Linked DNA regions of Homo sapiens. The protein of the gene in region 2 interacts with the protein of the main gene of each other region in a pairwise test. Each region holds a gene or a part of one and is shown on either strand. Other genes may lie near its edges.

Region 1 (5,285 bases), on a different chromosome or scaffold from region 2:
CTAATCTGATAAAACCACAATCAAAACTTCCAACAGTTTTTTTAAAGAATTTAATTTTAGGCCGGGCGCGGTGGCTTACACCTGTAATCCCAGCACTTTCGGAGGCCGAGGCAAGCGGATCACCTGAGATTGGGAGTTCGAGACCAGCTGACCAACATGGAGAAACCCCGTCTCTACTAAAAACACAAAAAAATGAGCCAGGTGTGGTGGCACATGCCTGTAATCCCAGCTACTCGGGAGGCTGAGGCAAGAGAATCGCTTGAACCTGGGAGGCGGGGAGGTTGCAGTGAACCGAGATCACGCCATTGCATGTGAGAAGGGACGGGACGGGACGGGACGGGACGGGACGCGATGCGATGCAACGGGATGGGAAGGGAAGGGAAAATTTTAACAAGTCGTCTCAGTAATCTAAAAAGAAAATGCATGAAAATGATCAATAAATGTTTGAAAAAGGCCAGGCATGGTGGCTCACGCCTGTAATCCCAGCACTTTGGGGTACTGAGGTGGGCAGATCACCTGAGGTCAGGAGTTCGAGACCAGACCAGTCCGGCCAACACAGTGAAACCCCATCTCTACAAAAAATACAAAATTAGCCATGTGTGGTGGCACACGCCTGTAGTTCCAGCTACTCGGGAGGCTGAGACAGGAGAATTGCCTGAACCTGGGAGGCAGGTTGCAGTTGCAGTGAGCCGAGATGACACAACTGTACTCCAGAGCCTGGACGAGACAGAGTAAGACTCCATCAAAAAAAGAAAAGGAAAGGGAAAGGGAAAGAGAAAGAAAAAGGAAAAAGGAAAAGGAAAGGAAAGGAAAATAGAGCTCTATAAATCAATACAAATAAGGACAACCTAATGGGGAAAACATGAGCAAAAAGCCAGTTCTCAAAAATTAAAGAGCCACAAATCACATGAAAACATAGCCAGGTTCTCTTGTAATCAAAATGCAAGATTAGAACAAAGCTGGCACCTCTTGCCCATTGGCCAATATATAATGACAGTAAGGGTTGAGAAGACAGACAACTCCTTTTTTTTTTTTTTTTTTTTTTTTTTTTTTTTTTTTTGAGATGGAGTCTTGTTCTGTCGCCCAGGCTGGGGTGCAGTGGCACGATCTTGGCTCACTGCAACCTTCACCTCCTGGGTTCCAGCGATTCTCCTGCCTCAGCCTCGTGAGCAGCTGGGATTACAGGCACCCACCACCACAACCGGTTAATTTTTATATTTTTAGTAGAAACGGGGTTTGATCATTATTGGCCAGGCTGGTCTTCAACTCCTGACTTCAAGTGATCCACCTGCCTTGGCCTCCCAAAGTGCTGGGATTATAGGAGTGAGCCACTGCACTCAGCCCAGACAATTATTCATTACTGGGTTAGAAAACATACACATACATATATGCTTGCTTACTTCTCTCAGTAGGGAGGGAAATGCACATGTATATCTATACTTATATTTGTCATCTTTTAAGTCTTTATGGTTAGTTTTTTTTTTTCAGTCTTGCATGTATTTCAATAGATTTATCCTAGCACCTTATAGCATTTTAAAAATTTTTTTGTATTATGCCCCAGAACTGAGCAGATGCCATTTATACTGCAAATATTTTTCTACAGCTTATTTTTTTTAATTTCCTTAAAAAAATTTCCCCCGCTGAAATCTGAGTAAAATAAAGAATGGAGGGGATCTTTTTCCCCCTTAGAGACAGATCTATATGCCCAAGCCAGACTTGAACTCCTGGCCTCAAGTGATGCTCCTGCCTCAGCCTCCTGAGCAGCCGGGACTACAGGCATGCACCACTGCACCCAGCTTTGAGATACAGATATAGATGCAGACTTTTTTTTTTTTTGAGACAGAGTCTCGCTCTGTCACCCAGGCTGGAGTGCAATGGTGCAATCTCAGCTCACTGCAACCTCCGTCTCCCAGGTTCAAATGATTCTCCTGCCTCAGCCTCCCAAGTAGCTGGGACTACAGGTGGCCACCACCACACCTGGCTAATTTTTGTACTTTCAGTAGAGATGGGGTTTCACCATATTGGCCAGGCTGGTCTCGAACTCCTGACCTTGTGATCTGCCCGCCTTGGGCTCTCAAAGTGCTGAGATTACACGTGTAAGCCACCACGCCCAGCTAGCTTTGATATTCTAAAAAGACTATATAGGTGGTTTTAATGAAGTATTTAAACATATAAAGAAGTAATTAAACAGGGTACTTGTTACTATTTTAAATATTTTTTAAAGCCTTAAGTCTTTGTTGCACTTACAATTCTATCTTGTATTAGTCTTTTATCTAGCAACTTTATTTCTAGTAACCTTAATTCATACTTTGTAGCATGTCTGTTGGGATTTTTTTATACGGACAGTTACTGTTCATAAATAATACCAGTTTTCTATCTTGCCCTTTAGTCCTGTTACCTGTTATTTCTTACTCATATTTTACTATGCTGGCTATATGTCAGAGTCTTTCAAGAGTCTGGGATGTTACCATCTGTGCAAGCTAACAAGCTAGCCTGGATACTGTTTCATGGATGCTGGCAAAAGACATGAGACAAAGACTTTATTACTCATGGTACAGCAAGCAGCATAAGCGTGATGTTGGCACTGGTTCTGTACAGCCCCCTAAGACCTTTGGGGATTGACAGGGAGGGGCCCAGGTGGATGCTGCCCTTGCACTGAGTTTGGCAAATCAACCACATATATAAAGAGCTTGGTCTTTGTCCCTCAATGTTGCTTACTGCAAACAACCAAGAAACGGCCCATGCAAAGTGTAGTCAAGATTTTGCATTCTTGGCATACAAGCAAGAACGTGTAGGGGACTGGGTGCAGTGTCTCATGGCCATAATCCCGGCAATTTGGGAGGCTGAGGCAGGTGGATCACTTGAGGTCAGGAGCTTGAGACTAGCCTGGTCAATACAGTGAAACTCCATCTCTACAAAAATTAGGCCAGGTGTGGTGGCTCATGCCTGTAATCCCAGTACTCTGGGAGGGTGAGGTGGGCAGATCACCTGAGGTCAGGAGTTTGAGACGAGCCTGGCCAAAATGGTGAAACGGCTCACTAAATACACTAAATTCACTAAAAGTACAAAAATTAGCTGGGTATGGTGGTGGGTGCCTGTAATCCCAGCTATTCAGGAGGCTGAGGTAGGAGAACTGCTTGAACCTGGGAGGTGGAGGTTGCGGTCAGCCAAGATTGCACCACTGCACTCCAGCCTGAGCAACAGAGCGAGACTCCACCTCCAAAAGTTAAAAAATAATTTCAAAAGAATACAGGCCGGGCACGGTGGCTCACGCCTGTAATCCTAGCACTTTGGGAGGCCAAGGCAGGAGGATCACGAGGTCAGGAGATCGAGATCATCCTGGCTAACATGGTGAAACCCCGTCTCTACTAAAAATACAAAAAATTAGTCAGGCGCGGTGGCGGGCACCTGCAGTCCCAGCTACTTGGGAGACTGAGGCAGGAGAATGGCATGAACTCAGGAGGCGGAGCTTGCAGTGAGCAGAGATCGCACCACTGCACTCTAGCCTGGGCAATAGAGCGAAATTCTGTCTCAAAAAAAAAAAAAAAAAAAAAAAAAAAAGAATACAAAAATTAGCCAGGCTTGGTGGCGCACACCTGTAATCCCAGTGACTTGAAGTATGAGAACTGCCTGAACCCAGCAGGCGGAGGCTGCAGTGAGCTGAGATCGCGCCACTGCACTCCAGCCTGAGTGACAGAGCAAGACTCAATCTCAAAAAAAAAAAAAAAAAAAAAAAAGCAAAAATGCTCAGAGCCCAGGATGAATTGCCTCTCTCAATGATCTACCCATCAGCCCTATACATTCTTGGCTGAATTTGAATTTTCCCATTATTATTCCACTGTTAGTAACTCATATTAATCTTCCTGACAGAGACTAGAACAAAATTCATTTAACTGGTCTTATACAGCATTTAATTAAGTCTATTATCAACATCTCAAGTGAGGTCAGGACCCAGCCAACTGAATAAACCCTGGAAGGAGGAACGCTGGTGGAGGTTGGGAACCACCAATAAGTAATTTTGCCAGGATATGGTCTAAGGCCATGATTATCCATTACAGTTCATTAACAGGAATTTAAACCGACCTGACTGTTGGTGTCTTTCATTAACAATTACAAGGGCAACAAATGGGCCAAAAGTTACCCCTCATTGTCAATAGAGAGATGTCCTGTATCTCATTCTCTCACATAAAAACCAACCACCCCAAGGGACACAGGTCACTCCAAGATCTGTTGTTAAACTTGATTTGGATTACTGTTAATAGCTTAGTTCAGAAACATGAACACTGTCTCAAAGTAACTGGAGCCTCAGTTGCTACACATGTCGTTAACTTTCAGGTATCTGGATAAGCATATGAATTGTTATTAATCATAACGAAACAAGGTTGTATGGATCTGAGTGTTCAAATGCAGATTTAGGAGCTGCATTGATGGCATCAGGAGTAGCAGGATAGCTGACTGCCCATGTCCACATCAATTTTTCCAAGTTCAAAGCATGTGGACAGAGGTGACAAATCTAGCAGTGTGTCAGTGTCATCTCCTCCAGCTGCTGTTTGACTCAGGCAGTGATGCTGGTTCAACGGTACAGAGAGGGCATTAATTGTTCACCTTTCTGCACCTCCTGGGGTAATGTGTTTCTCAAGTGTTGGAGTTGTCTGCTCTCCCTCCACAGCCATGAAATTGGTTAGTCTTGTGTCTAGCAATCTTAATTCTTACTTTGTAGAATCTGTCGGAGTTTTTTTTAATATGGACAGTTAATTGTTCACAAATAATACCAGTTTGTTTTTTTTTTTTTTTTTTTTGAGAAGGAATCTTGCTGACTCCCAGGGTGCAGTGCAGTGGCACGATCTTGGCTCACTGCAAGCTCCGCCTCCCGGGTTCATGCCATTCTCCTGCCTCAGCCTCCCGAGTAGCTGGGACTACAGGCGCCCGCCACCACGCCTGGCTAATATTTTGTATTTTTAGTAGAGACGGGGTTTCACCATGTTAGCCAGGTTTTAGTAGAGACGGGGTTTCACCATGTTAGCCAGGATGGTCAAGATCTCCTGACCTCATGATCCGCCCGCCTTGGCCTCCCAAAGTGCTGGGATTACAGGCATGAGCTACCGTGCCCGGCGAAATAATACCAGTTTTCTATCTTCCTTTTTAGTCCTATTGTATTTCTTACTCATATTTTACTGTGCTGGCTATATGTCAGTCTTTAAAGTACAAGAGCTGTGACTTCACTTAAGAAAAAAAGAAAATCTCCTACTTGAACCTAGACTTTTCATCTGGGGAGGTAAGATGTG
Region 2 (5,285 bases):
AGTCATTCAAGATAGCAGGAAATGGGGAGGGGGACACCAACAAGCCAGTACTCAGTGAACAAGGGAAATGCCTGGATGGTCAGAAAAGTACAGTGATGAGAAAGGCTGGATGTGAAGAGAGCAACTGGTTGCTTGAATTTTCAAGGAGGAAAAAAATTCGCATGAGATTGGAAGAGAAACAGCCTTTTAAAAATGAGCATTCTGGGACATTTCATTAAAAATAAAAATGGGCAGCTAGAAGAAACACTTCCCCTAAGAACTGGAATAAGACATAGAGATATCCACTCTTACCGCACCTATTCAACACAGAACTGGAGGCCAGGTGTGGTGGCTCAAGCCTGTAGTCCCAGCACTTTGGGAAGAGCCAAGGAAGGCGGATCACTTGAGCTCAGGAGTTCAAGACCAGCTTGTGCAACATGGCGAAACCCTGTCTCTACAAAAAACTACAGAAATTAGTCAGGTGTGGTGGCACACACCTGTAGTCCCAGCTACTCAGGATGCTCAGGCAGGAGAATCGCTTGAGATCAGCAGGTCGAGGCTGCAGTGAGCCGTGATTATGCCACTGCACTCCAGCCTGGGTAAAAGGGTGAGACCCTGTCTCAAAAAAAAAAAAAAAGGTTCAAGCTGAGAGCCAAATCAACAACACAATCCTATTTACAACAGCCACACACACACACAAAAACCTAGGAATACATCTAACCAAGGGAGTGAAAGATCTCTTCAAGAAGAACTACAGAACACTGCTGAAAGAAGTATCATAGATGACACAACTGGAAAAACATTCATGTTCATGGACTGGAAGAATCAATATCATGAAAATGTCCAAACTGCCCAAAGCAATCTACAGATTCAATGCTATTGCTATTAAATTACCAACATCATTTTTCATAGAATTAGAACAAACTCTTCTAAAATTCTTATAGAACCAAAAAAGAGCCCAAATAGCCAAAGCAACGCTAAGAAAAAAGAACAAAGCTAGAGCCATCACACTGCCCACCTTCAAACTATACTACCAGGCTACACTAACTAAAACAGCATAACACTGGTACAAAAATAAACACATAGACCAATGGAACAGAATACAGAACCCAGAAATTAAAGCTGCACACATACAGCCAATTGACCTTTGACAACATTGACAAAAATAAGCAATGAGGAAAGGACTCCCTGTTCAATAAATGGTGCTGGGAAAAATAGCTAACCATATGTAAACGAATGAAACTGGACCACTACCTCTAACCACAGATAAAAATTAACTCAAGATGGATTAAGGACTTAAATGTAAGACCTCAAACTATAAAAGTCCTAGAACAAAATCTAGGAAATAGTCTTCTGGATATCGGCCTAGGCAAAGAATTTGACTGAGTCCTCAAAAGCAATTGCAACAAAACCGAAAATTGACAATTGGGACATAATTAAAATAAAGAGCTTCTCCACAGCAAAAAAAACTATCAACAGAGTAAACAGACAACCTACAGAATGGGAGAAAATATTCGCAAACTATGGATCCAACAAAAGTCTAATATCCAGAATCTATAGGGAAGTTAAGTTAAACAAATCAACAAGAAAAAACACACAACCTCATTAAAAAGCAGGCAAAGGGCAAGAACAGACACTTCTTAAAAGAAAACATATAAGCAGCCAACGAAACATGAAAAAATGCCCAACATCACTAGTCATCAGGGAAACGCAAATCAAAACCACAATGAGGTACTATCTCACACCAGTCAAAATGGCTATTACTAGAAAGTCAAAAAACATCATGTTGGCAAAACCACTGAAAAAAGGGAACTCGTATACACTGTTGGTGGGAATGTAAATTAATTCAGCACCTATGGAAAGCAGTCTGGAGATTTCTCAAAGAACTAAAAACAGACCTAGCATTCAACCCAGCAATCCCATTACTTGGTAAATAGCCAAAGGAAAATAAAATTGTTCTACCAAAAAGACACCTGCCCTTATAAGTTTATCACAGCACTGCTCACAATAGCAAAGATAAGTGGTGGCTCATGCCTGAAATCCCAGCACTTTGGGAGGCTGAGGTGAAAGGATCACTTGAGTTCAGGAGTTCAAGACTATCCTGGGCAAGAAAGTGAGACCCCTATCGCTACCAAAAAAAAAAAAATTTTTTTTAATTAGCCAGGCATGATGTCACATGCCTGTAATCCCAAGTACTTGGGAGGCCGAGGCAGAAGGATTGCTTGAGCCCAGGATTTTCAGACTGCAGTGAGATAAGATAGCACCACTGCATGCCAGTGTGAATGGAACAGCCAGACCCTGTCTCAAAAACAAAACTAAACAAAACAAAAATAGCAAAGACATAGAATCAACCCAGGTGTCCATCAACAGTGGATTGGATAAAGAAAATGTGGTACATACAAGCCATGGAATACTTCGCAGCCAGAAAGAAAGACCACCACCATGTCCTTTGCAGCAACATGGATGCAGCTGGAGGCTGCCTCCACTTATCTTAAGTGAATTAATCCAGAAGTAGAAAACCAAATATTGCATGTTCTCATTTATAAGTGGGAGCTAAACCCTTGGTATACGCGGACATAAAGATGGGAACAAGAGACACTGGAGACTCCAAAAGGAGAGAGGGAGGGAGAGGAACAAGGACTGAAAAATCTCCTATTGGGTACTATATCTACTATCTGAGTGACAGATTCAACAGAAGCCCAAACCTTGGCATCACGCAATATACTCTTGTAACAAACCTGCACATGTACCCCCTGAATCTAAAATTTAAATTTAAATTTTTTTAAAAAATGGGCAACTAGGAAAAAAATAACCCCTATCTCTGGGTCTAAGGTACTAACTGCTGAAAATGAGTGACCTTCGATCATGAAAGTGGCAGTGAAAGTGTAGTTCCCCAGAGAGAGGCAAGCTATACACAAGGCAGGGGGAGGCCAGGAAGAAAAGAGGCTGATTTATAGTATGAGAAAGGTCTTGGGGCTCCAGAGGACTCAAGGGTGGGCGTTAGTGAAGTGGGGGAGGTGAAAAGAGGGGAGAAGAGTGCCTTGGAGATGTGGTGAGACGGAACAAGCCATGAGCATGTTGGAAGGCAGCCAAAGATCCCAGGGGGAAGGCCCCTCTCAGGCTGGTGCATGCTGAGATCCCGAGTCAGGATAGAGGGTAAACACGCGGCTTTGCTCAGTGGCCAAATGGAAGACTGCCAAGAAAGTCAGTGAATGGCTCTGAAGGCAATTCTCCCCATCTCCCACTGCAATCAACAAGAGCTCACCAGGACCCAAAGGCACAGAGCTCCAGGGACTGGAACCGGAGAGGCTAGAAGTGACCCAGCCCTCACACACAGCTTTGCCTTGGAAGTTGAAGGGGGACTTTAGCTGGCCCATAAATATGGACCTTGTACAGACCACAGAAGCAAAAGAGGCAATGGATTAGTATCCAGAACACACAAAGACCTACAGCAGATCACTAAGAAAAATGCAGCCCAACAGGAAAGTGGGCACAAGACACAGACAGGTGACTCAAAGGAAAAACTGGAATGGTACAAACATGTGAAGAGCCTCAACCTCACTGGCAATCTAAATCTGAAGGAAGGGAGAGAAGGACAAAGACAGACAGATGATAGGTGGATGATAAAAATACTCTTTAAGGCCAGGTCCAGTGGCTCACGCTGTAATCCCAACATTCTGGGAGGCTGAGGCAGGTGGATCACTTGAGCTTAGGAGTTTGAGACAAGCCTGGGCAACAAGGTGAGACCCTGTCTCTACAAAAAATACCAAAAAAAAAAAAAAAATTAGCTGCGCATGGTGGCGTGCAGAGTAGCTGGGACCCCAGTTACTTGGGAGGCTGGGATGGGAGGATCACTTGAGCCCCAGAGGTCGCGGCTGCAGTGAGCCGTGATTGCACCACTGCACTCCAGCCTGGGTAACACAGCAAGACCCTGTCTCTCCCCCTCTTCCCCCGGCACCTCTCTCTCCATATACACATATATTTTTTCTCTTTAGAGGAATATAATAAATAGCAAAGTGCTGACAAGGACGTGGGAAACACGAACACTGACATGGTGCAGGTAGAAATGTACACTATGGTGACCAATTTGGCAGTATCTTATCAAATTGAAAATGTCCATGTACTACTTCTCAAATATTTCCTCTGGGAAAACTCCTGGAGAACTCTCAGACAGGTTAGCAAAGAGTTTATCAAGGATGCTCACTACGGCATTATATTTGTCAAGTAAAACCCGAAAGTAACTTAAATGCCCATCAGTCAGGGAAGGATAATCCAAATATTACATCTCCTTTGATGCAAGGTACTTAAAAGGAATGAACTAGATCCACAAGCAATTTGTAAAATTATACCCCCAAACAAAACCATCTATGCCAGCCTGGGCAACATGGAGAGACCCCGTCTCTACAAAAAAATTTTTAAAATTTAACAATTAGCCAGGCATGGTGGCATGCACTGACGGTCCCAGCTGCTCAGAAGGCTGAGCTGGGAGGATAACTTAAGCCTAAGAGGTCGAGGCTGCAGTGAGCCATGTTCATACCACTGTGCTCCAGCCTGGGTTACAAAGCAAGACTCTGTCTCAAAAAAAAAATTTTTTTTGCATATATGTTACACTGTATTATATGTATTATGTATGTATAGATATTTGTTAGCACAAAATATTAAAATGGACTAGAAAGCTTGGTTCTGGATAAGATGGCCTGAACACACCCTCCAGTCTCGCTTCCACTGAATGCAGCTATAAATTCCAAAGAGAATACATGAAGCAGCTATTTGAGGACTCTGAAAAGTAAACAGTAGCAGGCAGATAGGGGAAGAAGATCAAAATTTTAAGAACCACTAAACCAGCAGAGAGTTTACCACTTTTTCCTTTAGTGTCCCTGGCCTGGACTCGAGGGAGCTCCAAAACCCAAAAGTAGCCCTGAGCCACACAGAGAGCACCAGGAGAAGGTCTCTAGTGAGGCTCAAGGAGTGGGAAAGGGGTCTCCTGCCAGCAACCAAGCACGGTAGCAGTGGGGACATCCCCCAGGTAACTCAAACTCTGGGGGAAAGGAATTTTTTCCTTACACCTGAAAGCTCTAAGAGCTTCTCAACTCCTGCCGCAGGGCGGGATGAGGGCAGAGTTGCAGGCACTTGGACACAGCAGGGTATATGAAGCCCCAGCATTCCAGGTGGGGGACTGAAAAAGGCAGTCCCAGGTAACTAAAGTGTACCCAGAGAGTTAACAGCTCAGAAAAGTGACCCCAAAAAGTTGTTTATAAATTCCTGGCCTCATCCCAAGTTGTGCCTGTGTGGATCTGATCATAAAC

What was found. Proteins that work in one complex are often made in the same cells at the same time.
Region 1: the proteins of HSF2BP (region 2) and GPBP1 interact in binary tests that used the Homo sapiens proteins (3 or more experiments, as listed by UniProt).

Annotation. Positions count from the first base shown.
Region 1 is NC_000005.10:57,225,006-57,230,290, reverse strand, and holds part of GPBP1 (vasculin), read right to left. Parts: intron 1-5,285. UniProt on the Homo sapiens protein: Functions as a GC-rich promoter-specific transactivating transcription factor.
Region 2 is NC_000021.9:43,606,689-43,611,973, forward strand, and holds part of HSF2BP (heat shock factor 2-binding protein), read right to left. Parts: intron 3,302-5,285; exon of another isoform or gene 3,199-3,301; intron 1-3,198. UniProt on the Homo sapiens protein: Meiotic recombination factor component of recombination bridges involved in meiotic double-strand break repair.